Homo sapiens: one gene and its partners. Changing the gene in region 1 together with any one later gene gives a genetic interaction. Each region holds a gene or a part of one and is shown on either strand. Other genes may lie near its edges.

Region 1 (7,118 bases):
TATTCATGTTACCAAGTAATGGGCTTATTATTTTTAAATGAATACATTTTAAAAAATTGTTTTAATTTCCAATACGGTAAATATTAATAAATCCCAAACAAATCAAAGATTTTTTTTAATCCTGGATTTTTTTTTTCTTTATAACAAGGTCTCACTATGTTGAGTACGCTGGTCTCCAACTCCTGGCCTCAAGCGATCCTCCCGCCTCAGTCTCCCAAAGTGCTGGGATTACAGATAAGAGCCAATGTGCCCGGCCCCTTCGATAATTTTTAAGAGTGTAGGCCGGGTGTGGTGGCCTGTAATCCCAGCACTTTGGGAGGCTTAGGCGGGCGGATCACCTGAGGTCAGGAGGTCGAGACCAGCCTGGCCAACATGGTGAAATCCCGTATCTAAAAATACAATTAGCCCGGTGGCGGGAGCCTGTAATCCCGGCTACTCGGGAAGCTGAGGCGGGAGAATCGCTTGAGCCTGAGAGTCGGAGGTAGTAGCGGGCCGAGATCGCGCCACTGCATTCCGGCCTGGGTGACAGAGTGAGACTCTCTCTCTCAAAAAAACAAAGAGGGTAGAGGGGTCGTTAAGGCCAAAAAGTTTACTAGCCTAGGAAATACTGTGGACAGACATTGGATTAGAGTTTGTGTATATATATGAATTCAGAGCCACATGTATCTTCCGGTTTACTTGTTTATGCGGTGGTTGTTTCCAGAAAAAAAAAAAATTCCTTGAATGAGATTTTTAAAACCAAATCACATTTAAATCCACTAGAGAGAACTGGGTTCCAAAGGAGTCTTACCAAATGAAGATCATGGGCTGGGAGGGGATCCCTCACCGAGAGTTAGAAAAGCTAGTAAGGAGTGGACTGGACTCGAATCCAACAATTTTGTAATGGAAGAAAATTCATTTTTATTTTTCATAAAACTGAATTACCATCTACCATCTCTTAAAAGCAAATATACTGTGGATGGCTACAGTCTCAAAGTAAACTATTGTTAGCAACCATATTTGATATCTGTAGTCTATAACATGCAGAGTCAGCATTTTGGACCTCAGTCACTTCAGTGACACCAGTTTTATGGTTAATTCTGAGCTGATAATTACAAATAGACCTTTCCCATTTATAACTTATTTGTAAAATGATTTCTATTATAAACATAACATATACATTGTATAACAATTAGAAAACCTGTCTGTTTTGATGGATCTCAAGATTTAAGAAGGCTTAGACTTCAGCTATAAGATGCACATGCCACTGTGGGAGGCCGAGGCGGGCAGATCACGAGGTCAGGAGTTCTAGACCAGCCTGACCAACATGGTGAAACCCCCGTCTCTACTAAAAATACAAAAAATTAGCCGGGCATGGCAGCAGACACCTGTAATCCCAGTTATTCGGGAGGCTGAGGCAGGAGAATTGCTTGAATGCAGGAGGCAGAGGTTGCAGTGAGCCGAGACGGCGCCACTGCACTCCAGCCTGGGCAACAGAGCAGATGGAGACCATCCTGACCAACATGATGAAACTCTGTCTCTACTAAAAATACAAAAATTAGCTGGGCATGGTGGCGTGCACCTACTAGTCCCAGCTACTCGGGAGGCTGAGGCAGGAGAATTGCTTGAACCCAGGAGGCGGAGGTTTCAGTGAGCCGATACCGCGCCATTGCACTCCAGCCTGGGCAACAGAGCGAGACTGTGTCTCAAAAAAAAAAAAAAAAAGGAGATGCACATGTTTAAGTCTATTTCAGGCGGTTAGCTGGTGGATTGCTACAATTCCTCTGTAAGTTTAAAAAATCATGTAAGTGCTGTTTTGGAGTACTGTAATAACTCTTGAGATGTAGAACACATCTGCAAAATGAGGGTAGTATAAAAGAGACGAGGGGATGAGGGTAATACATAAGAAATAGGGGAAAGGACAAGAACAGGTAAATTAAACTTCAAGTACTATTTTTGCTATTGCTGTCTACACTCAACTAGCAAGGAAAAAGCCTTGCTTCTGCTCTGCGGGTTTTCTTCGGGTTTAACTTGACCAAGCAAAACAGACCATCTGGGATTAACTTTTTCCTTTTCACTGTAGGTCACAGGCTCTACGTGTAGGGTGTTGGCCACCTGTTCTTCCACCATCTCTACCTCCACCTCCTCCTTTGTGGCCACAGCAATGTCACAGCCCATACATGGGGGAGGGGAGCATTCAGGAACTCGGAGGCAGATGCATTTTTTTCCAAACACAATAACCTCAAACAGTGGTCTCTAAGCACTTTCCTATGCTCTTCCAAAACGTGACCTCCCCTCTTACTCACACATCCCCTACACACGGAAAAGGACCACTATCCGTCCAGCCTGCGCTCGAGGGAGAAGTTTATACCTTCGTCCTAGAGATGCCAAATGCAGCAGGGAAGGCTGGACCGAGGCAGCCGAGTGCTGGAAAGGGAGGCAAGAGGTGCGGGAGCGGGGAGAGGGGGAGGGGAGGCCGGGGCGCCGCGGGAGTAACCTCCACCGCACCCCACCGCTCCGAGGGGCAGCCGGCCCGGCCCGAGTTTCTCCCCAGAAGCCTCCAGCCGCGGCTCTCGGGGAGGAGGAAGGAAGGGGTTCCCCGTCCAGGAAGCAGCACCAGCGGCGACCGCCTCCAGCCTCACCCTCCTCAGCCCCGCACCGCCCATTCCTCACTCCCCGCGCCGCCGCGTCCGCGCGCCTCCCCCCTGCAGACCCCTCTCACCCAGCCCGCCCCGACCCCGCGCCCGCGCCCCCCACCCGCCCCTCCGGGGACCCCTAATTCATTCACTCGCCGCCGGCCCCGCCCGGCGCCGGCAAAGAGGGTCGGGACCCGGGCAGGGGCCCAGGAGGGGTGGTCCGCTCCGTACCTCTCTCCCGCACCTGGGAGCCGCTGAGCCTCTGGCCCCGCCGCCGCCTTCAGTGCCTGCGCCGCGCTCGCTCCCAGTCCGAAATGGCGGGGGCCGGGAGTACTGGCCGAGCCGCCGCCACCTTCGCCGCCGCCACTGCCGCCGCCGCTGCTGCCTCCGCCGCCGCGGCCGCCGCCTAGGAAAATCGAGCTCCGAGCACACCGATGAGTTCGGGGCCGGGCGGCCGCAGAGGGCAGAGCTATCGATGCGTTCCGCGCTCGATTCTTCTTCAGACGGGCGTACGAGAGGGAGCGGCTGAGGGCGGTGTGGGAAGAGGGAAGAGGGGGAGGCAGCGAGCGCCGGCGGGGAGAAGGAGGGGGCCGGGCCGGGCCGGCGGGGGAGGAGCGGGGGCCGGGCCGGCGGAGGAAGGGGTGGCTGGGGCGGTCTAGGGTGGCGAGCCGGGCCGGCTGGAGAGCGGGTCTGGGCGGCGCCTTGGCGGGAGGAGGGACTGCCGGACCCACGCGGCGGCCCGCCCCCTGCCTAGCCGCAAGGCTGTCCCCGCAGCCGCCAATTCTGACCCGGAGCGGGACCGGACCGCGGCGGGCTGTGCGGATGCCACCAGGGAGACGCCGCGAGCGGCCACGCCGCCCCGCTGACCGGTCTCCACAGAGAAGCTGCGAAGAGCACCCCGCCACCCTCAGGGTCGGCCTATACTGGCGCGCATCCATTTACTATCATTGACTGCATGTAAATAAACAAGCAGTCACCAAAAGTGGGAGGCGACTTCGGGGACTTAGGGAGACCGGGCGGACGATTTCCCACACCGGGGCTGTCTGATCGCCGCCCCGATTATTATCAGCCTCAGCACTTGGGCTGGGAATTTAGCCCCAGGCCCAAACAAACACGACAGACCCTTTCAACGCTAATCTTCTCGGGTCAGGAGGCTTGTGATATTTTGCTATCTTTCTTGATATTTTGAACCCATCACAAGGTCTCTAAACAGGGACTTCGCTTATACCCAGGGCCCCTGAAATCACAAACAAAAGACAACTGTTTTTAAGTAGAGATGGCCTTGGTAGTTTAGACCTGAGGAGAGTCATTCAAACATTAATTAGAAGACAGATTAATCAGTTAAAGTTCGTGGAGTTAAGACATTAAACAATGGGGCAATTAAACATGCTAGCATACCCGGAGTCTGTGTTGATAAACTACCTAGAAATGTATCTTGGGAGAGTCTTGAGGATTGAGGGCTGGAAAAGCAGCGCCTGTACCTGATAGGATCGCCCCTCCTCCGAGACTTTCAGTTCCATTCCTCTAGTCCACATCATAAACCACCAATAAAGCTGAATTTAAATCCCAGCTATTATGTCTGTTAACCAAGGCTTTACATCAACTGTCATCCTTTCCTTTCTACTCTTACACGGGCTGTAATCTGCAAGGTTTATTCCAGTCTCCCCCTCCTAGCGCCAGGTGGAAGGGGCAGAAGAGAAAAGTGAAAGACAGGGAAGGGGAGAAAATGTGCCTACTCTATGTTAAGTACAAGCTAAATCTTTTGCACTTATCGTATCATCTTATTTAATCATCACGACAACCTTATGAGGTAAAATACTTTTTACCGTTTTACAAATGACGAAACAGATTTAGAGGTTAAAACGTTGGCACAAGTTCACATAGTTAAAAAATGGAGTATACTTCATGTCGGATCATAGTCACTCTACTCCCAGATCATCAGTGGCCCTCATTCCACTTGACATAAAAGCAAAATTCTTCTCAAAAATCCTACATGGCCTTAAATTATTTGATATCCCCTACCCTCTTCTCTGAACTCTCATCCTACTGTTCTCCCTTCCTTACTTACGTAGATAAACATTGGTTACTGGCTGTTCCTTGAAAATGCCAGGCAGGCGTCTTCCTCAGGGAATATGCACTTGCTACCCCTCTGGCACCTCATTTAAATCTTTGTTCCAAAGTGTTTTTAAAAGGAGATCTTCCCTAAAAAGATCATCTTTGATACTGTAATTTCGCCCTTGTCCCAGATCTGTCTCTTTTCCTACTTTTTCTCCAGAGCTCTCATCACCTTCAATAATACACTATCTATTTTGTTTTCTTGTCTCTCTACCATCAGAATGTAAGCTCCATGAGGGCATGGGTTTTGGTCTGTTTCATTTACTGCTAAATTTCCAGCACCTAAGACAGTCTCTGACACAAAAAGGCATTCAATAAATATTTATGGAATGTTGAATGAGTGAATCTGTGGACCCTCTGTGGATTCTAAATCCTAATCCATGAACTCTGTGACTCTAAATCTTTACTTTAGACAGAGTGTCTTAAACCTCCTGTCAATCTCTGTCTTCATCTTAACAAAATCTGCTTTGAAACTTAGGTCACCTTCTGATAAGCCACATTCCGTGCAGCTCAGAGATACTTATCTCGTACATAATAGACACAAGGAATTCTTAAATGAATGAATTTGCGCTTATGTGTATGCTACTTTGTGGTCACTCAAGCATAAATCACAGATTTATTTTGTACAACATCAAGTGCATGATAAGTTCTTGTTTCCTCTTACAGCTGTGAATATGATGTTCTTCCTATAGTTGATGTTCCATACATCTTAAAAGGACTATAATATAGAAGAGGGGAAAGCTTTATATAGCACTTTTATGCTGATTATAAAAATTCTGGCATTAGCAGAAACCTAATCCATCCACATGGTCTCAGTTATCATCTAGGCTCATGATTCGTAAAGCAAATCTGCATCCAACCATTTGTTCCACGCACCCCACACTCCAGTTTTACCTCAGACACTTTCTCTTTCCTTTTCACTTCCACAGCAATTTATACATATGGTATGTCAGGTCTTTCTGCCGTTCAGTCCTGGGTACTTTCTTAGAAGCCGGCACCACCTCCTTGCAACATTACCTTTCTTTCCTTAACATAGAGGTCTCAAGGGTAAATGCTTTAGGAATCACCTGCCATGCCTACCAAAAATGCAAGTTCCTAGGCCCCTCACCCAGATATTTTATTCAGTTGGTCTAAGGTAGACCAGTAATCTTCATTTTTAGCAAATCAAATGATCCTAAACTGGTAGTTCACTGTGTGCACATTGAGAAACTCTGATGTAGATATTCAAATTCTTGGCACCTGCACTTTCTACTGTCTTCAGGGGTTCCTCTTTCTCGAGCCTGGTGGCTCCCTTGAACAGTCTCCCTGGCTCTCCCTTCCCTTGCTCTCTCCAAGGACAAGCACACTGAAGTAGCCTGTGATCACAATGGGAAAGGGGGGAGGAAATAAAAAGTATAAGCATGGGGATTCCAGGCCTGCTCTCAGCTACAACTGAAGTTTCTACCCTCTACTGTCAGACTGTCCTGGGAAGGCAGCCACGTACAAAGGTGTGCACGTACATACCCTTTTTATCTGCTGTACAGATAAAAGACCATACTGACCCTTTCTTTCACAAGAAACCCTCTTCTGCAGATAGAATTAAAGCCAGAACAACAGGAGTACCCTTATGTTACCTGGGCTCTTAGAAAAAAGGTATAAAATGCTAGGACACCCTCAGAGCACTGCAAATGCTGAGGATTTACTTTAAGGCAATAAGGACACTTTAAAAAACCCTATCATCAGGCGGAGAGCTGCTGTTCAGTCCAGCAATCAACTGCACTTGTGAGCCAGCAACAGGCTGTGGGGCCCTGCTCATCCCTTCATTAACAAGTATCCATTGCCTATGACTCTAGTAATTTTGCCATTCTCATAAATCACCATCTGTCCACTGCTTTTTCATGTAGTCTTAGCTTCTACTGCTATCTGTGCTTCTAGTGGTCACTCTCTGTGACTAACATTCAAAGCATTCCAAGAGAGAAGATCTGGCCATGTCTGTCATTCACTGTTCAATAGGAAGGGCCTTTATGGGACACAATTTTCCTGATTGGTGGCTGGCCTTCTTTATGTCTGGCTAAAAGATTATTGTGTTTGTTTGTGTGTCAACCCTGGGTCCAGACGGTTGTGGCCAGAGTAGCAGGACGCAGAGCAGGGGAACTTGAGCAGGAGGAGCCATCTACGATGCTTTCATGGACTCTACTTCAGCACAACCTTTTGACTCTGGCAGGAATTTGAACACATGAATGGGTGCTGCTTAATTCACTTACTCTGCACTTTATCCTTACTGGACACTTATTTCATTATACTTTGTATACCTTTTTTGCAAATATGTTTTCCCATAACTGCTTTACTAGGTTGTAAATTATTCCAGGCCCATTTCTTTTAATTCTATGTTTTCATAGTTCTTAGCAC
Region 2 (7,110 bases), on another chromosome or scaffold:
GCCAGGATGGTCTTGATTTCTTGACCTTGTGATCCACCCGCCTCGACCTCCCAAAGTGCTGAGATTATAGGCGTGAGCCACCGTGCCCAGCCAGACATTTTCAACTCTGCATGTCTCAGGTCGGGATCCAGATCACCCAACCACCCAAGCCTACCCTATCTACAGCGTTCCCCATCTGCTTTGATGGTAACTCCATCCTTCTAGTTCTCTGGGCAAAAACTCTTTTGTCAACTTGATTCCTCTTTTTCCCTCACATCCTACATGAAATCTGTAGGAAATGGCCGTTTCTTACCATGGCCTAAGCCTCTGTCATCTCTGTCCTGGAATCTTTCTGGTCTCTCTGCCTCCACCCACGTTCCCTGACAGTCTGTTCTCCACAGAGTGGTCTGAGGGGGTTGTGCTAAAACCTAAATCATAACATGTCACTCTTCAAAACCCTCCCAGGGTATGGGTACAGTGGCTCATGCCTGTAATCCTAGCACTTTAGGAGGTCAAGGTGGATTGATCACTTGATGTGAGGAGTTCGAGACCAGCCTGGCCAACATGGTGAAACCCCATTTCTACTAAAAATACAAAACAAAACAAAACAAAACAACAATAAAAAAAACAACCAACAGAAAATTAGCCAGGCGTGGTGGTGCACGCCTGTAATCTCAGCTACTCGGGAGGTTAAAGTAGAAGAATTGCTTGAACTCAGAGAGTCGGAGGTTGCAGTGAAGTGAGATCATGCCACTGCACTCCAGCCTGGGTGACAGAGCGAGACTCTTGTCTCAAAAAATAAATAAATACAAATTAGAAAATACAAAAATTAGGCCAGATGCGATGGCTCACGCCTGTAATCCCAGCACTTTGGGAGGCCGACGCGAGGTGGATCGCCTGAGCTCAGGAGTTCGAGACCACCCAGGGCAAGATGGTGAAACCCTGTCTCTTCTAAAAATGCAAACAAATTAACCAGGTGTGGTGGCGCATCCCTCTAGTCCCAGCTACTTGGGAGGCTGAGGCAGCAGAAACGCTTGAGCCCCAGCAGCGAAGGTTGCAGTGAGCCAAGATTGCGCCACTGCACTCCAGCTTGGGCTACAGAGTGAGACTCCATCTCAAAAAAAAAATTAGGCCGGGCGCGGTGGCTCACGCCTGTAATCCCAGCACTTTGGGAGGCCGAGGCGGGCGGATCACGAGGTCAGGAGATCGAGACCATCCTGGCTAACACGGTGAAACCCCGTCTCTACTGAAAATACAAAAAATTAGCCGGGCGAGGTGGCGGGCGCCTGTAGTCCCAGCTACTCGGGAGGCTGAGGCAGGAGAATGGCGTGAACCCCAGGGGGCGGAGGCTGCAGTGAGCCGAGATTGCGCCACTGCACGCCAGCCTGGGCGACAGCGAGACTCCGTCTCAAAAAAAAAAAAAAAAAAAAAATTAGCTGGGCATGGTGGCGCATGCTTGTAATCCTAGCTACTTTGAAGGCTGAGGCAGGAAGATCGCTTGAACCCAGGAGACAGAGCTCGTGCTACTACACTCCAATCTGGGTGACAGAGCGAGACTCCATCTCAAACAAACAAAACAAAAGAAAACCCTCCCATCCTCCCCCCATCTCAGTGTAGAAAGTAAAACCCCGACCAGACACGGTGGCTCACACCTGTAATCCCAGCACTTTGGAAGGTCGAGGCGGGTGGATCATTTGAGGTCAGGAGTTTGAGACCAGCTTGGCCAACATGGTGAAACCTGGTCTCTACTAAAAATACGAAAGTTAGCTGGGCATGGTGGTGGGTGCCTGTAATCCTAGCTACTCGGGAGGCTGAGGCAGGAGAATCGCTTCAACTCAGGCGGCGGAGGTTGCAGTGAGCTGAGATCGCACCATTGCACTACAGCCTGAGCAACAGAGCAAGGCTCCGTCTCAAAAAAAAAAAAAAAAAGAAAAAGAGAAAAAGATTTTTCTTTTCCCTTGGGGACTAGAGGTTTCATTCACTGATGTATCCTATGTAGCTTAAGCAGTGTCTGATACATAAGCATTCAATGTAATATCTGCTGCACTAATAAATGCGCAAAATCATGTCAATGACTCGTTCGTTATCCGTGTAAGTTGTGAATCAAGTCGAAAACGCACCCGTCTCCAGCTCAAATGATCAAGATAAGTCCCTTATTTCAAATAATTATTTCTAAAAGTCCTAACTTCCCTCCCCCATTATTCGTTTTATTTCTTTTGTTTCGTTTTGAGATGGAGTCTTACTCTGTCGCTCAGGCTGGAAGTGCAGTGGCGCAATCTCGGCTCACTGCAACCTCCGCCTCCCGGGTTCAAGCGATCCTCCGGCCTCAGCCTCCCGAATAGCTGCAATTACAGGCGCCCGCCACTACGGCCGGCTAATTTTTGTATTTTTGTTAGAGACGGGGTTTCACCACAATGGCCAGGCTGGTCTCAAACTCCTGACCTCAGGTGATCCGCCCGCCTCGGCCTCCCAAAGTGCTGGGATTTACAAACCTGAGCCACCGCGCTCGGCCTCCCCCAGTATTCGTAAAATCGCTGCCCCTTAACATTCATTTCAATAGGACTAATTATCTAGGACCACTCCCGTTATCGTTTAAAACATGTTTTTCATAATTAAATTTTTTTTTTTTTTTGTAGAGACGGGGGTCTCGCTATGTTGCCTAGGCTAGTCTCGAACTCCTGTGTTCCAGCGATGCTCCGCCTTGGCCTACTAAAGTGCTGGGATCACAGGAATGAGCCCCCGCGCCCAGCCCAGGGCGTTATCTGATAAAGCTGTCCCCTCTCCCGAAGTCACGATGCGTCAAAGGCCCCACGCCCGTTCTCAAACTCATCAGGAGAAAAGCAGGACGCTGCATCCCTAAAACATCTGCCCCTGCCCCCCCCGCTCTGCTCAACCCTTCCCACACTCAATCGGTCAAATATCCACCCTCAACCTCATTCCCGCCGCCTAAGCCTAGCCCGGCCTCACATGATGGTCACTACGCTCTCCGTTCACTCCCGTTTCCTCCGCGTTGCTGCTGCCTGAGGAGAGAGAGGCGGGACTTCCTCTTCCTGCGACCCACTTCCGTTGGCGCCTGCGCAAAGCCAACCAGTAAGTGGAGGCGTGGCCTGTTGCCACAGCATTCCCCACCAACGGTGCACAATGATGGAATAAAAGCTTCGGGTAGGGGTTCGCGGCCAGTCAGAACCACACGGGGGCAGATGTTTATGACAATGAAGACAAAAGGAAAGGCAGTCTGATTCAAACCGTTTCTTGAAGAATGGTACAGGTTGAAGGAGGGAAATGACAAGCTATTTCCAAATGCCCGCCGGCCGTGACTTCGGGGGCGCGGCCTCCGTGAAGCCAATCCGCTCCTCGCTTCGGAGACAGGCACCGCCCCTCTTCCCTCTGGGACGCGTTACTGACGTATCTACTGATCTTTCCGACCCTGCGCCACCAATCCCCTGCCTACATCCGGAAGGGGCATGGACCTGCGCCCGGGAGATCGAATATTTTCCATGATCAAACGCTGTTCATTGGCTTTCCCTCCTCCGCTAAGGCGGAGCCTACTTCTCTTGCGCTCCCATTTGGGTCGTGCCATTCTCAGGGGAACCAACCCCAATACCTAAGGGAGGCTGGGAGGCGTGTCCTCAGGACCGTAGTTCTTATTGGTTTCGCTGCTCGCTGTGGGGTGGGCTGGTGCAGCCGCAGCTGTTGCTTATTGGCCCACCGATTCCATGGGGAGGAACTTGGCTGGGCCTAAACTCAATCCGTGGTCTGGTACAGGTTTCAGGGCAAAGCGGCCATGCGTTCCGGGGGCCGCGGGCGACCCCGCCTGCGGCTGGGGGAACGTGGCCTCATGGAGCCACTCTTGCCGCCGAAGCGCCGCCTGCTACCGCGGGTTCGGCTCTTGCCTCTGTTGCTGGCGCTGGCCGTGGGCTCGGCGTTCTACACCATTTGGAGCGGCTGGCACCGCAGGACTGAGGAGCTGCCGCTGGGCCGGGAGCTGCGGGTGAGGCTGGGCGGGGACCCGGGCACCGCGGGGACCCTCATTCCCTCCCCGCTGTTACCCAGGGTTGACGTGGCTTTAGCGTACGGCCCTAACCGCAGATGCCACCGTCTTCGTCATCTGAGCGCATGACCCTTACCAAAGGAATAAGGCTTCGGGCTGGTTCTGCAACAGTAGCTTCCTTTTAAGAGGAAAGGTCTGAAATAGTAAGACGGGGGGGTTCAGGGTTCTACGCCTTTAGTCAACTATTTGGAAGAGTCCCTTCCTCCATCTCCCCTCTCTCTCACTGGGCCTCGATTTCCCCATCAAGTTTGAGGTAGGCTGGACCGGATGGTCTTGGAAGGACTTTTCCTGAGCCTTGGATTTATCCTAGAAGTCTCCGATGCTGGAGGCGGCAGATTAGGAAGAGAACCCGGGGCTCCTCGCGGGTGACGGCGCCCGGGGTAGGGTTGAAATGGGGGGGTTGCTCTCATTCTTCCCTTCCCTATCCCACCTCCTTCCCAAGGTCCCATTGATCGGAAGCCTCCCCGAAGCCCGGCTGCGGAGGGTGGTGGGACAACTGGATCCACAGCGTCTCTGGAGCACTTATCTGCGCCCCCTGCTGGTTGTGCGAACCCCGGGCAGCCCGGGAAATCTCCAAGTCAGAAAGGTAAAGGGACCCACCTCCAGTCCCTGACCCCCTAGCCCTCCAGGGAATGGGAAATAAGAATCCTGTTCAAGATCCCAAAGAAGCTAAGAGGAGGAACTGGGGCTCTGACTGGAGTTAATCGGACTCTAGACTCCATGCTGGTAACAAACCACCAGGCTGTACTGCCCCCCTTAATGCCCCCACCAAAAGCTTACTGTGTGCTAGGCATAGGCAACAGACAGCCCTATAAGGTGGGTACCAATATGATCTTCATTATGCAGATGGGGAAACTGAGGCTCAGAGAGGTTATACACATTGCACAAATCCTACAGATAATAAGTAGTAGACCTTAGCCGGGTGCAGTGGCTCATGCCTGTAATCCCAGCACTTTGGGAAGCCAAGGTGGAAGAATCACCTGAGAAGTTTGAGACTAGCCTAGTCAACCTAGTGAGACCCAATGTTTAGAAAATCATAGACCTAGAGTTGAACCCAAACAGGTTGGCTCCGAGCTGGTGCTGTAATGTATCTGTTGTCTTCCAGAAAGCATGAAGAGTCATTTAAAGGCCAGGCGCAGTGGTTCACACCTCTAATCCCAGCACTTTGGGAGGCCGAGACAGGCAGATCCCTCGAGATCAGGAGTTTGAGACCAGCCTGGCCAACATGGTGAAACCTCATCTCTACTAAAAATACAAAATTAGCCAGGCGTGGTGGTGGGTACCCGTAGTCCCAGCTACTTGGGAGGCTGAGGCACGAGAATCACTTGAACCCAGGAGGCGGAGACTGCAGTGAGCTGAGATTGCGCCACTGCACCCCAGCATGGGTGACAGAGCGAGACTCCATCTCAAAAAAAAAAAGTCACTTAAATACTGCCTGAGTCCCAATGCTACCTCATCCACTTAGATTGTGACCTTGGACTGGTTTCTTTTTTATTTTATTTTATTTTATTTTATTTTGAGATGGAGTCTCACACTGTCGCCTGGGTTGGAGTGCAGTGGCGCGATCTCGGCTCACTGCAACCTCCACCTCCCAGGTTCAAGCAAATCTCATGCTTCAGCCTCCTGAGTAGCTGGGATTACAGGTGTGCACCACCATGCCTGGCTAATTTTTTGTATTTTTAGTGAGACGGGGTTTCACCATATTGGCCAGGCTGGTCTCAAACTCCTGACCTTATGATCCGCCCACCTCAGCCTCCCAAAGTGCTGGGATTACAGGCGTGAGCCACCGCGCCCGGCCTGGACTAGTTTCTTAACCTCTCTGAGCCCATTTCCTCATCTGTAAAATGGGGTCATGTATTGGCAGTCCCTCCCCTAAATGGTTCCTAGAAGAGGGCTTAGCACACAGTGAGAGCTATTTAAGGGTAAGCTGTGATGAGTCTTGCTGGCTTCAAGAGGTGGGGTCTCCCCAACATCTGGCACCCAGTAGGTACTCACCAGCACTGTCAAGGGAATGATTTTAATCAGAGTAGGGGGCTGGGCACAGTGGCTCACATCTGTAATCCCAACACTTTGGGATGCTGAAGCAGGCAGATCACTTGAGGTCAGGAGTTCGAATACCAGGCTGGCCAACATTGTGAAACCCCATCTCTACTAAAAATACAAAAAATAGCCAGGCGTTGTAGGGGGCGCCTGTAACCCCAGCTACTCAGGAGGCTGAGTCAGGAGAATCACTTGAAGCCAGGAGGCAGAGGTTGCAGTGAGCCAAGATCAAGCCACTGCACTCCAGCCTGGGTGACAGAGCAAGACTCCATCTCAAAAAAAAAAAGAAAGAAAGAAAGAAATCCATTCAATCAGAGTGGGGCTTTAGTGTCAACCCATCTGCTCTGCATGGCTCAGGTCACGTGGCCCTTCTCCCCACCTCCTCCCCAGTCCCCGTCCACCCTCCCACCTCTCTCTTGCCGCTAGTTCCTGGAGGCCACGCTGCGGTCCCTGACAGCAGGTTGGCACGTGGAGCTGGATCCCTTCACAGCCTCAACACCCCTGGGGCCAGTGGACTTTGGCAATGTGGTGGCCACACTGGACCCAAGGGCTGCCCGTCACCTCACCCTTGCCTGCCATTATGACTCGAAGCTCTTCCCACCCGGATCGACCCCCTTTGTAGGGGCCACGGATTCGGCTGTGCCCTGTGCCCTGCTGCTGGAGCTGGCCCAAGCACTTGACCTGGAGCTGAGCAGGGCCAAAAAACAGGTGAGGAGCAGGAGTCGGGGAGGGTAGTGGGCTACCTCCACCTTTTCCCAAGCCCCCACCCTCCCTTGCCTGGACATTTGTCATCCCTCTCGTCTTCCCACTCTACTCCACGCACAGAGCCACAGGGATCTTTTTTTTTTTTTTGAGACGGAGTTTCGCTCTTGTTCCCCAGGATGGAGTGCACATGGCGAGATCTTGGCTCCCCGCAACCTCTGCCTACTGGGTTCAAGCAATTCTCCTCCCAACCTCAGGTGATCTGCCCACCTCGGCCTCTCAAAGTGCTGGGATTACAGGCGTGAGCCACCGCGCCTGGTCATCACAGGGATCTTTTT
Region 3 (6,879 bases), on another chromosome or scaffold:
TCACCATGTTGCCCAGGCTGGTCTCAAACTCCTCGGCTCAAGTGATCTGCCTGCCTTGGCCTTCCAAAGTTCTGGGATTGCAGGTGTCAGCCACCGCGCCCAGCCTACATTTATTATTTATTTATTTAGTTAGTTAGTTAGTTAGTTATTTTGAGATGGAGTCTTGCTCTGTCGTTCAGGCTGTAGTGCAGAACCGCTCTCTTGGTTCACTGCAACCTCCACCTTCCGGGTTCAAGCGATAATCCTGCCTCAGCCTCCCAAGTAGCTGGAATTACAGACGTGCACTACCACGCCCAACTAATTTTTGTATTTTTAGTAGAGATGGGGTTTCGCCATATTGGCCAGGCAGGTCTCAAACTCCTGACTTCAAATGATCCGCCCACCTCGGCTTCCCTAAGTGCTGGTATTACAGGTGTGAGCCACCGCGCCCGGCCGCCTATATTTATTATTAAACTTAGCCCATACCCATTCCCTCAGAAACCTAATTTTAGTGACTAAGACTATCAGATAAATGAAATGACATTCAGGTTGATAATTATGTGGAGTGTCCCTCCTATATTATTGAGATTATAACATCTCTGTTTAACAAGACCTTCAACGTCTCAAATAAAAGTAAGCAGCGGTGGGGCACAGTGGCTCACGCCTGTAATCCCAGCACTTTGGGAGGACGAGGTGGGCAGATCATGAGGTCCAGAGATCGAGACCATCCTGGCCAACATGGTGAAACCCCTTCTCTACTAAAAACACAAAAATTAGCTGGGCGTGGTGGTGCGTGCCTGTAGTCCCAGCTACTCGGAAGGCTGAGGAAGGAGAATCGCTTGAACCCGGGAGTCGGAGGTTGCAGTGAGCCGAGACCTCGCCCCTGCACTCCAGCCTAGCGACAGAGCGAGACTGCGTCTCAAAAAAAAAAAAAAAAAAAAAAAGAGAGAGAAAAAAGAAAGGAAGCGGCTATATTAACCTCTTCTATGTAAATCCAGATTTGTTCTAGAGGTTTAGGAAACTTCCAATTCCGTGTTTGTGACATCACAAGTCCTTGAAACACTCAAGGGTTGTGGTACGCTGCTCATTCTATTCTCCTTCAAAGGCATGCAATGGAGGAACTATTTTACCCTATAAACTCTGGGCCATCATTCAGGGAAAAGCCTGTAGAAGACCACAGTCAGATATTGGTGAGTGCCAAGGTAACGCTAGATTATGGTTTCTCAACTTTGGGATTACTGACATTTTGGAACATATACTTTTTTGTCAGGGGTATCCTGTGCATTATAAGATGTTTAGCAGCAGACTGGGAGCAGTGGCTCACACATGTAATCCTATAACTTTGGGAGGTCAAGGGAGGCAGATCGCTTGAGTCCAGGAGTTTGAGACCAGCCTGGGTGACATGGTGAAACCGTGTCTCTACAAAAAATGCAGAAATTAGCCGGCAGTGGTGGTGCACACCTGTAGTCCCAGCTACTCAGGAGGCTGAGGTGGGAGGATTTGAGCTGCAAAGGTAGAGGTTGCAGTGAGCTGACATCACACCATTGCACTCCAGCCTGAGCAACAGAGCAAGACCTTCTCTCTCTCTCTCTCTCTCTCTATATATATATACATATATGTGTGTGCGTGTGTGTGTATGTATGTTTAGCAGCACTGTTGGACACGATGCTAGTAGTACCCACCCCCGTTTCCCTGTCATCACAATAAAGCATCTCCAGACATTGCCAAATATCCCCCGGAGGACAAAATCGTCCCTGGTTGAGAACCACGGAATTATATCAATGACCATCACAACCCTAAATGAACTAATGAACTCAACCATACATTTTCTCCACCTCTGCCCTCAACAAGTGACTGCTGCTTGAGAAATTTACACAGGAGGGCAGAAAATGGTGAGTTCATTTTTGCCCATATTAAAAAGGCCCTCAATATTGCTTACCAGTCCTACAACATTCTTCTGTCAACTTGTTGTATTACTTTCTACAATATTCCAAATCTTCTCAGCTTTCCTTTAAACTCCCAATACCACCTCCTTTTCTATCAGAAGATGACCCCATCTTCAACTTCACAGAGAAAACAAGTCAGCAAATGAGAACTTTAACTTCCTGTTACTAAACATACAGAAACATACTTCCTCTCATAATTGGGGAAATATCTCCTCTCTCTCTCTTTCTCCCTCCCTGCCCTCTTCCAAAACCATTATTCTTACCAGTGTTTCGAACTGCCTCTAAACTGCCTCTATTCTTACCCTTTCAAGATCTTTGCCTACTGACTATCCCTTCTCTTCCTTTATTCAACCATTTTTTTCTCAGTTGAATCTTCCCTACCATGCTCAAGTTTCTCCTGTCTTAATTCTAACAAAAATCAAAAAAACAAAAACAAAAAATCTTGATCCTTCATCATTCTCCCTCCTTCCTCCCTGTCAAGGCCAAACTTTCCAAAAGCATTCTACAACTTGTCCCCATCTCTACATCTCCCCCACCTCCAAACTACTAAGTTGTTTTTTTCAACCCCAGCATTCCAACAAACAGCTTTCACTGAGATAATCAGTGACCTCTGTGTTATGAAATTAAAAAAAACATTTCTCAGGCTTCATCTTCCTTGATCCCTTAGGAATAGACTACTTACTCCTTGAAGCACTTTTTTTTTTTTTTTTTGAGATGGAGTCTGGCACTGTCGCCAGTGATAGACATTATGATAGTAATGTAGCTGGGATTACAGACACCCGCCACCACACCCAGCTATTTTTTCTTTCTTTTTTTTTTTTTTTTGTAGGGGGGACGGAATTTCACTCTCGTTGCCCAGCCTGGAGTGCAATGGCATGATCTTGGCCCACTGCAACCTCCGCCTCCCAGGTTCAAGCGATTCTCCTGCCTCAGCCTCCCGACTAGCTGGGATTACAGGCGCCTGCCACCATGCCCGGCTAATTTTTTGTATTTTTAGTAGAGATGGGGTTTCTCTATGTTGGCCAGGCTGGTCTGGAACTCCTGACCTCGTGATCTGCCCGCTTCAGCCTCCCAAAGTGCTGGGATTGATTACAGGCGTGAGCCACTGTGCCTGGTGAAGCACTTTCTTTTCTTGATTTCCAGCAGTTTATTTTATTCTTAGAGGTGCATGGAGGGGTTCCTGCAGCAAATAGTTTACAATAATCCTCCATCTGCTTAAAACTCTTCAATAGCTTTCAGTGCCCCTAGTACAAAGTGGTCTAAAATTCCAAGGCCTTCCAAGATCTAGCGATTGTTGGCCTTCTAAAGCTTTCTTTCCTCTACACTCGGGGATGTACGATTAGCACTAAGCCTCTAACAAGGATGAACTACTAGAAATTTCCAGAAGGCGTTATGCTGTTCTCGACATAAGCTGTTCCCCAGAGCCTGGAAAACTCTAGCTCTTTCTCTGCCGGATTTCCGGGGGAACTCCTACTTATCCTTCATGACTCAAGTCACTTCCTCCGGGAACCCTTCCAGACACCCCTAAGAATAAAACGCTTTGTTCATTATCAGCCAAAGGCGCCTCAAATTTTCTATGTGCTATGCACTGTATTCTATCCACTATAATTTGTTTACATATCTATATCTTAGTCTAGACATATTGAAAGGCGATGAAGAGCAGGGAAAGCACTGTATTCGCTTTCTTTTCTTCAGCGTTCATCCAGCACAGTGCCTGGCATACGGTTTGCCCTCAGTAAATGTTTATTGCATGAACACCTCCCAGCTTCGGGCAGGACTGAAATCTATCCGGTTAACTAGTGAATTCCCAGACTCTCCGTCTGCGTGGCAGGGACATTTAAACCCCCAGCACCGTGATTGGCTCCAGCTGCAGGGGTGTGTCTGTGTCCGCGGCGAACGGGAAGTGAGCAGGCGCGCGGGCTCGGCGCGCGCAGGCGCGACTAGGGTGCAGCGCCAGGTCCGGTGTTGGGGTGTCCGAGTTGCCGCCGGAGAGGAGTGGCCTCGCCCGCTTGGTGAGTCTCCAGGAGTGGGACGGAGGGAGCTGGCCGGGATGAAGTCTGAGACTATGTCCTGAGAAGAAAGAGTGTATCGTATTGGTTGAAAAGTTGGTGGGGTCGGGCTTAAGCGGAGGAGGGGGCTCTCTGGCCCTTACTCGGCAGATGGGCCCGGAGAGAGGACGGGAGGTGCCGGGAGAACATCGAGGGACCAGTGGAGGAAGGGTAGCTGGATGGTAATTCTCTGGACCCTTCCTCGAAATTAAACAGAGATCACTTTCCGCCCCTCACCCTTACTGTGTTGCTGTAGTTGACATTAATAGACTGCCTGTATGGTGACCACAGTGATCAGATAGCTCTGAGATAATGGCTTGAGGAAGGACTCTGAGGTTCCTGGTATTGGATAGCCCTTGCTCTCTAGAAAGGTTCAGCCTTACCTCGCGGCATTACTGCACAAATTAGAGGATCAGGAAAAGAATGAATTTCACAATTCGGGATTGGAGTGGTGGGGGGAAAAAGTACTGTAAAGTGTAGTTTCATCTCGTCCTTTTTTTCTTCTTTAATCAGTCACCACAATGTTAGGAAAGGCAGTTGATGGTAGGAGGAAACGTAAAGACATAAAAGTGGGAGAGGAAAAAAAAGTCAAGAAGGGAGTATCATTTTGCCTTTTGCTATTTGTCATCTCCTGGAATGGGGTCTGTATTAGTGCGTTCTCACACTGCTATAAAGAAGTACCCAAGGCCGGGCTTGGTGGCTAACGCCTGTAATCCCAGCACTTTGGGAGGTCGAGGAGAGAGGATCATATGAGATCAGGAGTTCGAGACCAGCCTGGCCAACATGATGAAATCCCATCTCTACTAAAAATACAAAAATTAGCCAGGCGTGGTGGTATATGCTTGTAATCCCAGCTACTCCGGAGGCTGAGGCAGGAGAATCACTTGAACCTGGGAAACAGAGGTTGCAGTGAACCGAGATCGTGCCACTGAGCTTCAGCCTGGGAGACAGAGTCAGGCTCCAACTCAAAAAAAAACAAAAAGCAAAAGAAATACTCGAGACTGGGTAATTTATAAAGGAAGGAAGTTTAATTGACTCTCAGTTCTGCATGGCTGGGGAGGCCTCAGGAAACTTATAATCATGGTGGAAAGCAAAGGAGAAGCCAAGCACCTTCTTCACAGGATGGCAGGAGAGAGACAGTGAAGGGGAAAAAGCCCCTTATAAAACCAGTATCATGAGAACAGCATGGGGGAAACCACCCCCATAATCCAATCACCTCTCACCAGATTCGAGATGAGATTATGAATAGCCAAACTGTATCATTCTGCCCCTGGCCCCTTTCTTTCTTTCTTTCTTTTTTTTTTTTTTTGAGATGGAGTCTCACACTCTGTCACCCAGGCTGGAGTGCAGTGGCGCGATCTTGGCTTACTACAACCTCCAACACTTCAAGCGATTCTCCTCCCTCACACTCCTGAGTAGCTGAGACTACAAATGTGTGCCACCAAACCTGGCTAATTTTTTTTTTTTTTTTTTTTTTGAGATGGGGTCTTGCTCTGTCGCTCAGGCTGGAGTGCAGTGGCGCGATCTTGGCTCACTGCGACCTCCGCCTCCCAGGGTCAAGCAATTCTTCTGCCTCAACGTCCCAAGTAGCTGGGATTACAGGCACCTGCCACCAGGCCTGGCTAATTTTTGTATTTTTAGTAGAGATGGGGTTTTGCCATGTTGGCCAGGCTGGTCTCAAACTCCTGACCTCAGGTTATCCACCGGCCTCCGCCTCCCAAAGTGCTGGGATTACAGGCGTGAGCCACCGCGCCTGGCTAATTTTTGCATTTTTTAGTAGAGACGGGGTTTCACTCTATTGGCCAGGCTGGTCTCAAACGCCTGACCTCATGATCCACCCACCTCATCTTCCCAAGGTGCTGGGATTACAGGCATGAGCCACCACGCCCAGATTCCCTGGCCCCTTTCAAATCTCATGTCCTCACAGTTCAAAACACAATCATGCCTTCCCAACAGGCCTCCAAAATCTTAACTCATTCCAGTATTAACCCAAAAGTCCAAGTCCAAAGTCTCATCTGAGACAAGGCAAGTCCCTTTTGCCTAGGAGCCTGTAAAATCAAAAGCAAGTTAGTTACTTCTAAAGATGCTATGGGGGAATAGGCATTGGTAAATGCTCCCATTCCAAATGGGAGAAATTGGCCAAAACAAAGGGGCTACCGGCCCTATGCAAGTCCAAAATCCAGTGGGACAGCCATTACGTCTTAAAACTTATTTTAATCTCCTTAGACTCCATGTCTCACATCTAGGGCACGCTGATGCCAAGGGTGGGCTCCCAAGGCCTTGAGCAGTTCTGACCCTGTGGCTTTGCAGGGTTCAGGCCCAGAGGCTGCTCTGCTGGGCTGGCATTGAGTGCCTGAGGCTTTTCCAGGTTCATAGTGCAAGCTGTTTGTAGACCTGCCATTCTGGAGTCTGGAGAATGGTGGCCCTCTTCTCACAGCTCCACTAGGCAGTGCCCCAGTGGGGATTCTGGGGGGTGGGCGGTGTCCAATCCCACGTTTCCTTTCTGCAGTGCCCTAGCAGAGGTTCTCCATGAGGTCTCTTCCACTGCAGCAGACTTTGGCCTGGACATCCAGGCATTTCCGTACATCCTCTGAAATCTAGACAGAGGTTCCCAAACCTCAATTCTTGACTTCTGTGCACCTGCAGGCCCAGCTACCACGTGGAAGCTACCAAGGTTTGGGGCTTGCACCCTCTGAAGCAACAGCCCAAGCTGTACCTTGACCCCTTTTAGCCAGGAGCTGGAGCAGCTGGGACTCAGGGCCCCAAGTTCTGAGGCTGCCCACGAAACCATTTTTTCTTCCTAGGCCTCAGGTCTTGTGATGGGAGGGGCTGCCATGAAGATCTCTGATATGCCCTGGAGACATTTTTCCCATTGTTTTGGTGATTAACATTCAGCTCCTTGTTAC
Region 4 (7,025 bases), on another chromosome or scaffold:
GAAAATGTAGTCTAGCTTAAGATTGTAATAGAAGGAAAATACCTACTGAAAGCTTGAACTAATTACACCTTTAGTTTTTATCTGCTTTCTTCAGATACACACCATCTCAGCAAGGAGTGGCATTCAACTCTGGAGCTAAACAGAGGGTTATTCGGATGGTAGAAATGCAGAAAGATCCAATGGAGCCTCCAAGGTTCAAGTAAGTGAAAAGGAATAGGCTACTAATACACACAATAACATGGATGAATCTCAAAACAATATGCTGAGTGAAAGAAGCCAGGCAAAAACAAGTACATACAGTATGATTCCATTTATCTAAAACTCCAGGAAATGCAAACTAACCTATAGTTACAGAAAGTAGATAGGTGGTTGCCTCTGGGGAAGGAGGTAGGGACAGAGAGGAGATGGGAGGGACAAGAGGAATAGGCAAGGGGCAAGCAGAAACTTTTGGGGATGATAGACATGTTCACTATCTTGCTTGTGATGATGATTTCACAGGTGCATATTTGTGTCAAAATTTAATCAAATCGTATGCTTTAAATATGTATAGCTAATAAATGTCAATTATCTCAATAAAGCTGCCTTTTTTTGTTTTTGTTTTTGTTTTTGTTTTTGTTTTTTGAGAGACAGTCTCGCTCTGTCACCCAGGCTGGAGTGCAGTGGCATGATCTCAGCTCACTGCAACCTCTGCCTCCTGGGTTCAAGCGATTCTCTTGTCTCAGCCTCCTGAGTAGCTGGGTTTACAGGCGTGTACCACAATGCCCAGCTAAGTTTTTGTATTTTTAGTAGAGACAGGGTTTCACCATGTTAGCCAGGATGGTCTCGATCTCCTGACGTCAGGCGATCTGCCCACCTTGGCCTCCCAAAGTGCTGGGATTACAGGCATGAGCCACTGCACCCGACCTAAAGCTGCTTTTTAAAGTGGAAAAAAGTATATTACTCTGCAAAATGACAATAATGTTGTGGAGGTGGGGTGAGTAACAGTTTCAAAGTTGGCCATGTTTTATTCATTGTCAAAGTGGAGTGGTAAATGTATATCATTATACAGTCTCTGTTTTTGTCTATGTTTGAAACTTTTATGCAAGAAAAAGGAGGAGAGACTTGATATGATGACTAAAAGGGAGGAAACTATATCACTCTCTGGTTGTGTTTTTATACTTCAGGATTAATAAGAAAATTCCCCGGGGACCACCTTCTCCTCCTGCGCCTGTCATGCATTCTCCTAGCCGAAAGGTATTCTTTGCTGTAGTCCAAAATATTTTTTTCTACTCATGGTTATTAATTTTATAGATAACCTCCCTATGCCTATACAGGTGCATGTCACCACACTGACTTGTAGTTTCTTTTTTTATTTTTCAAGATGAAGTTTCAAGAATGCTTATGAGAATGTATATAACATGTTAGCTGTAAGTTTTGTTATTAGTAATGCAAACCCTACTTTTAATGGAATGGACAGGGTCTGCTGTTTCAGTTTAAGGATGTTATAGGAAGTGAATATATGGGTTCATTAGGTCCCTGGTAATTTGACTTTTTAAGATATGTTTTGTTAATCAAAAGAACAATTTTTCATCCAAAAGAAGTCACATCGGCCGGGCGTGGTGGCTCACGCCTGTAATCCCAGCACTTTGGGAGGCCGAGGCGGGCAGATCACCTGAAGTCGGGAGTTCAAGACCGGCCTGACCAACATGGAGAAACCCCGTCTTTACTTTAAAAAAAATTAGCTGGGCATGGTGGCGCATGCCTATAATCCCAGCTACTTGGGAGGCTGAGGCAGGAGAATCACTTGAACCCAGGAGGCGGAGGTTGTGGTGAGCCAAGATTGCACCATTGCACTCCATCCTGGGCAACAAAAGCGAAACCCCGTCTCAATAAAAAAAAGAAAAAAGTCACATCACTTTAAATATGGAAAAATACTAGCCAACATTTATAACTGTCAAGAATAATTTCTAGATTATTTTCCATTTTTCACACTAGTTCAAAGTTATTACTAGAATTATATGGTAAACTAGTGCTAGCAAACAAATGGACTGCTGGCCTTTTACTACGGCTGTGCATATGTCAGTGTATATGGAGCTGTCTTTGAAGATAAAGATTATACTTAGATTTACTTTGTAGACTATAAATCTAAACTTGTCTCTTCTTTCCCTCTTCTCTCAGATGACTGTAAAGGAACAACAAGAGTGGAAGATTCCTCCTTGTATTTCTAACTGGAAAAATGCAAAGGTAATTAAGTTGTCAAATCAGTCTCTATTAGTATAACCTACTGGAAAACACCAGTAAAACAACTACAGCCTGCATAACTGTAGTTGAAACAACACGTGGTTTAACTGAGCATTTTCAAAAAGGAATGCCCAATTTGGTGACTTTTTTAATGTAATAGAAATGTTAGTATGCCAGGCACGTGAATACCGTGTCAGTTCCTTTTTTTTTTTTGAGACGGAGTCTCGCTCTGTCACTAGGCTGGAGTACGGTGGCATGATCTCAGCTCACTGCAGCCTCCACCTCCCAGGTTGAAGCGATTGCCCTGCCTCAGCCTCCTGAGTAGCTGGGACTACAGGCGCATGCCACCACGTCCGGCTAATTTTTCGTATTTTAGTAGAAACGGGGTTTCACCCTGTTGGCCAGGTTGGTCTTGATCTCCCGACCTTGTGATCCGCCGGCCTCGGCCACCCAAAGGGCTTAGATTGCAGGTGTGAGCCACCGCACCCGGCCCCATATCAGTTCTTTTAGTGAATTGTAGCTAGCAGAAGCACATAGAGAAGGAATAAGTAGAATAAAGTGTCATATAAATACAAGATGGTATTTAGAAAACTCAAATTTATATCTAAAAATTATTTCTAAAAGAAAGTAAACTGATGTAAAAGATTATATGACAAAAGAACAGAGTAAATGCTTGGATACTTTAAGTGCTTTAATATTCAACTACTGGGCTCTGTAGTAGTGAAGGCTTAAGCTATATATCTCTAATAATTGCCAAAGTTTCTAGGAGTTGTTAAGAATCTGTAGATTGTGGGATAGATTTGCTAGTTACTGTTTCATCTTCCCTGAATCATAGTTCATGATTTTATTTTTGATGGATAAAGAAGACCATTTCAGGTTTCTTAAGAGAATTTATATACTCACCCTAAACAAAGAGGTTGCCGACTGGTCTGATTTGAGTTGATTGGTATTTTGTAACTGGATGGTATCTTGAGCTGGTTCTATAATGCTTCATTTTATTATGAGACCATGGACTAAAAGTCAACATTTGAGAGACTAGTCAGATATCTGGAAAATAAAGCTAAGCCTGAAAGTTACATAGACATTCAAGTACAGTTCTTGAGTTATTGAAATGGGATGCAAAGTTTTAGAATGTAGAAATTCAGTTGTTTAGCAAACATTTTTTTTTCTTTTTTCTTTGGTTTTTTTTTTTTTTTTTTTTTTTTTTGAGACGGTCTCGCTCTGTTGCCCAGGCTGGAGTACAGTGGTATGATCATGGCTCACTGCAGCCTCAACCTCCCAGGCTCAGGCGATCCTCCCACCTCAGCCTCCCGAGTAGTTGGGACCACAAGTGTGCCCCACCATGCCTGGCTACTTTTTTGTATTTTTGGTAGAGACGGGGTTTCACCATGTTGCCAGGCTGGTCTTGAACTCCTGGGCTCAAGCAATCCACCTGCCTTGGCCTCCCAAAGTGTTGGGATTACAGGCTTGAGCTACTGCACCCAGCCTTTTTTTTCTATTTACTAAAACTTCAGGATTCTAAGAATATAACAGATCATTAAGACAGTACAGCAGATTTAACTTCCTATAGATGCTAAGATTATAGTGATTCTACCTTTGTTTGACTGTTAAATTTACTTGAGGAGCAACTGTTGAACTGTTTGACAGTGATTTCCTTTTATTAAAATCGACAATTATTAACACAAATATCTATTTTTCCAGAGCTTGGGTTCTGAAATCCTGCTGAGTTTAAATCCTAATCGCCCACTTACTAACTGTATGACCTTGGGGATGTTACCAAAGCATCAGTGAAATGGACACAATAATGTTAGAAGCTTTATAGAGTTATCGTGAAGGTTAAATGAGACCATAGGTGTAAGTGCTTGATCTTCTACATAAAGCACTCATTGATAGCTGCTGTTGTTTTGCATCATTGTGAAGAAAGATGCAAGGAAAAAGAACCTCCAGTTAAGTGGTTCTCAAAATGTGGGCATATTTAAATTTAATTTTAGCCAGGCTCGATGGCTCATGCCTGTAATCCCAGCACTTTGGGAGGCCAAGGGCGGATCACTCAAGGTCAGGAATTCAAAACCATCCTGGCCAACATGGTGAAACTCCGTCTCTACTAAAAATAGAAAAACTAGCCGAGTGTGTGGCGCACGCCTATGGTCCCAGCTACTCGGGAGGCTGAGGTAGGAGACTCGCTTGAACCCAGGAGGCAGAGGTTGCAGTGAGCCGAGATGGCACCCCTGCCCTCCAGCCAGGGTGACAGAGCAAGACTCCAGCTCGAAAAAAATAAAATTAATTTAACTTCAGACGATTAATTGAAGCACTTCTGTGACTGGGTTTTCTGTCTGCTTTCACTCTAGGGTTATACAATTCCATTAGACAAACGTCTGGCTGCTGATGGAAGAGGACTACAGACAGTACACATAAATGAAAATTTCGCCAAATTGGCAGAAGCCCTCTACATTGCTGATCGGAAGGTTGGTTTGTTATAATTTGTTTAATGCTCTTGTTACTTTTAAAATCCATTCTTGGTTACCTAAGGTACTGATAATTTAACTATAGTACCGAGCACCCAAAGAGAGTCTCACCCATGGTACGTGTGTCAGAAATGGCAGCTGCTAGTTGGCAGCTCTCTGCATGCTCCCAGCTTTTGTAGATGTGTACATACACCCCACAGTGGTGATCCGGCTCCCTCACAACATGTCAGAATAATGGTTTCCTAGGATGATCCCATTTTTTGAAGATTGCTAGGTTTCATAATTTTTGATTTCAAATTTTCCTCTATTTTAGATGTAGATGTCCCCCAAAAGGGCAGTTGCAGGAAAAGGCAGATAAACATTCTAATGAATTGAATAGTACATAAAATGGCGTTCATAGCATTGGCCATCTATTAATGTTACATAATGTATTAAATATTATGGAATTAGGCTGGGCACAATGGCTCATGTGTATAATCCCAGCATTTTGGGAGGCCAAGACTGGTGGATTCCTTGAGGTTGAGAGTTCAAGACCAGCCTGACCAATGTGGTGAAACTCCATCTCTACTAAAAATACAAACATTAGCTGGATGTGGCATGCACCTGTAATCCTAGCTACTTGGGAGGCTGAGGCAGGAGAATCTCTCGAACCCAGGAGGTGGAGGTTGCAGTGAGCCAAGAACGCACCACTGCACTTCAGCCTGGGCAGCAGAGTAAGACACTTCATCTCAAAAAATATATGTAAATATAAATATTATGGAATTAATATGTGATATTGAAGTTCACATGCATCATAGCATGTGTTTGGAACATAAAAAAAATGTCTTTTGTATCACAGTGAGTACCCTTATAAAAATTATCTAGCAGATGTAAGTTAAGATTTTATCTTGAGTTGACTTGATTAACTTTGAAAGTGTTATTAATTTTGAAAATGTTATTTTTTTGAGATGGATCTCACTATGTTGCCTAGGCTGGTCCCAAGCTCCTGAGCTCAAGCAGTCCTTCCACCCTGGCCTCCCAAAGTGCTAGGATTGCAGGAGAGAGCCACTATGCCTGGCTTTAATTTTGTTCTTTAGATTGTTTCTGAGAAAGCATTAGTGAAATACTTGACTTACAAGATTAATTGGGGTCACGATAGTTTCAATCACTAAAATATTCCCAGAGAAAAAAGCTGACCTTGCAGTGTCTTCCAGGCAGGATATCTTTTAGTGGACAAGACTCTTTGTTTTAATTAGCAATAACAAATCTGAATTCTGTATAATTGCTCTTACCAGCCAGATGTTAGGGAGTTGGATGATAGCCATAAATATTTATCCCATGATAGTGTCCTGTTTAACATGTGACTTTACCAACAGGCTCGTGAAGCTGTGGAAATGCGTGCCCAAGTAGAGAGAAAAATGGCTCAGAAAGAAAAGGAAAAACATGAAGAGAAACTTAGAGAAATGGCCCAGAAAGCCAGGGAGAGAAGAGCTGGGATCAAAACTCATGTGGAAAAAGGTATGACATTCTCATTACTGAATTGAATTTTGCTTGGTGAACAAAATATATCTTATTTTAGAAAATCTTTTTCCTACTGCATATAAAGTAGGTACATATAAACAAAATTTAGATACATCAGATATAGTGTAGAAATGGAGAGTAATCTCTGCCTTAGTAAGCTGAAGCAACAGGAGATAAGAAAAAAGTGGGTCTTCAGTTTGGGACTGTACCAGAAATTTTTAAACTTCTGAGCAGTGTACTTTTCAAAATTGCATTATTACTCAAATGATAGGCTTGATTTTCTCTTATCTTAATCTCAAAACTTAAGAGAAATTAGGTATCTAACAGAATAATTCAGCTCCCTCATATGGTGAAGTAATCCAGAGTTTTTCTATCTTGTAGGCTCCAATGCATTTCTCATCATTAAATCTGCCAGTATTTTCTCTCTGACTTTACTTAGTGGTCTACATTGGTGTATTAATTCAATTAGAGTGGGAAGTCGAGTCCTAAGTATAATTCAAGAAATTTTGTGAGGGTGGTTATTTTTTTTTCATTACTAAATTCTTACCTGGTACATTTATTCATTCTTTCATTTATTTAGTTCATATTGAGCATCTGCTGTGTGCAAGGTTCTCTTTTAGACACAAAGTGTTTTTGCTAGACAGTGGGTAGGGGGATGGGATATAACAGTCAACATTCTGGTGAGTGTAGACAGACAGAAATTAATCATGTAGTATAGTAAAAGGTAATAATTGCTGTGGAGGAAAAATAATACAGGGAAAGAGGATATAAAATTGCCAGAAGGTGAGAGTGGTCAAATAGCCCTCACTTCTGAGATGGTGCTGTTAGCAGAAATACTTG

The links.
Region 2: changes in KRAS (region 1) and SNRPD2 are lethal when combined (synthetic lethality), as found in Homo sapiens cells (3 studies listed by BioGRID, with this or other methods).
Region 3: changes in KRAS (region 1) and SNAP23 are lethal when combined (synthetic lethality), as found in Homo sapiens cells (3 studies listed by BioGRID, with this or other methods).
Region 4: changes in KRAS (region 1) and SNW1 are lethal when combined (synthetic lethality), as found in Homo sapiens cells (3 studies listed by BioGRID, with this or other methods).

What each region holds. Positions count from the first base shown.
Region 1 is NC_000012.12:25,247,905-25,255,022, forward strand, and holds the start of KRAS (GTPase KRas), read right to left. Parts: upstream 3,026-7,118; 5' UTR 2,847-3,025; intron 1-2,846. UniProt on the Homo sapiens protein: Ras proteins bind GDP/GTP and possess intrinsic GTPase activity. Plays an important role in the regulation of cell proliferation.
Region 2 is NC_000019.10:45,688,941-45,696,050, forward strand, and holds the start of SNRPD2 (small nuclear ribonucleoprotein Sm D2), read right to left. Parts: upstream 3,014-7,110; 5' UTR 2,949-3,013; coding exon 2,947-2,948; intron 1,728-2,946; exon of another isoform or gene 1,632-1,727; intron 408-1,631; exon of another isoform or gene 293-407; intron 1-292. Other genes in the region: QPCTL (glutaminyl-peptide cyclotransferase-like protein), read left to right, coding at 3,764-3,970, 4,473-4,616, 6,497-6,778. UniProt on the Homo sapiens protein: Plays a role in pre-mRNA splicing as a core component of the spliceosomal U1, U2, U4 and U5 small nuclear ribonucleoproteins (snRNPs), the building blocks of the spliceosome.
Region 3 is NC_000015.10:42,491,777-42,498,655, forward strand, and holds the start of SNAP23 (synaptosomal-associated protein 23), read left to right. Parts: upstream 1-3,857; 5' UTR 3,858-3,937; intron 3,938-6,879. UniProt on the Homo sapiens protein: Essential component of the high affinity receptor for the general membrane fusion machinery and an important regulator of transport vesicle docking and fusion.
Region 4 is NC_000014.9:77,730,145-77,737,169, reverse strand, and holds part of SNW1 (SNW domain-containing protein 1), read left to right. Parts: intron 1-94; coding exon 95-199; intron 200-1,163; coding exon 1,164-1,233; intron 1,234-2,157; coding exon 2,158-2,223; intron 2,224-4,568; coding exon 4,569-4,685; intron 4,686-6,040; coding exon 6,041-6,182; intron 6,183-7,025. UniProt on the Homo sapiens protein: Involved in pre-mRNA splicing as component of the spliceosome. As a component of the minor spliceosome, involved in the splicing of U12-type introns in pre-mRNAs.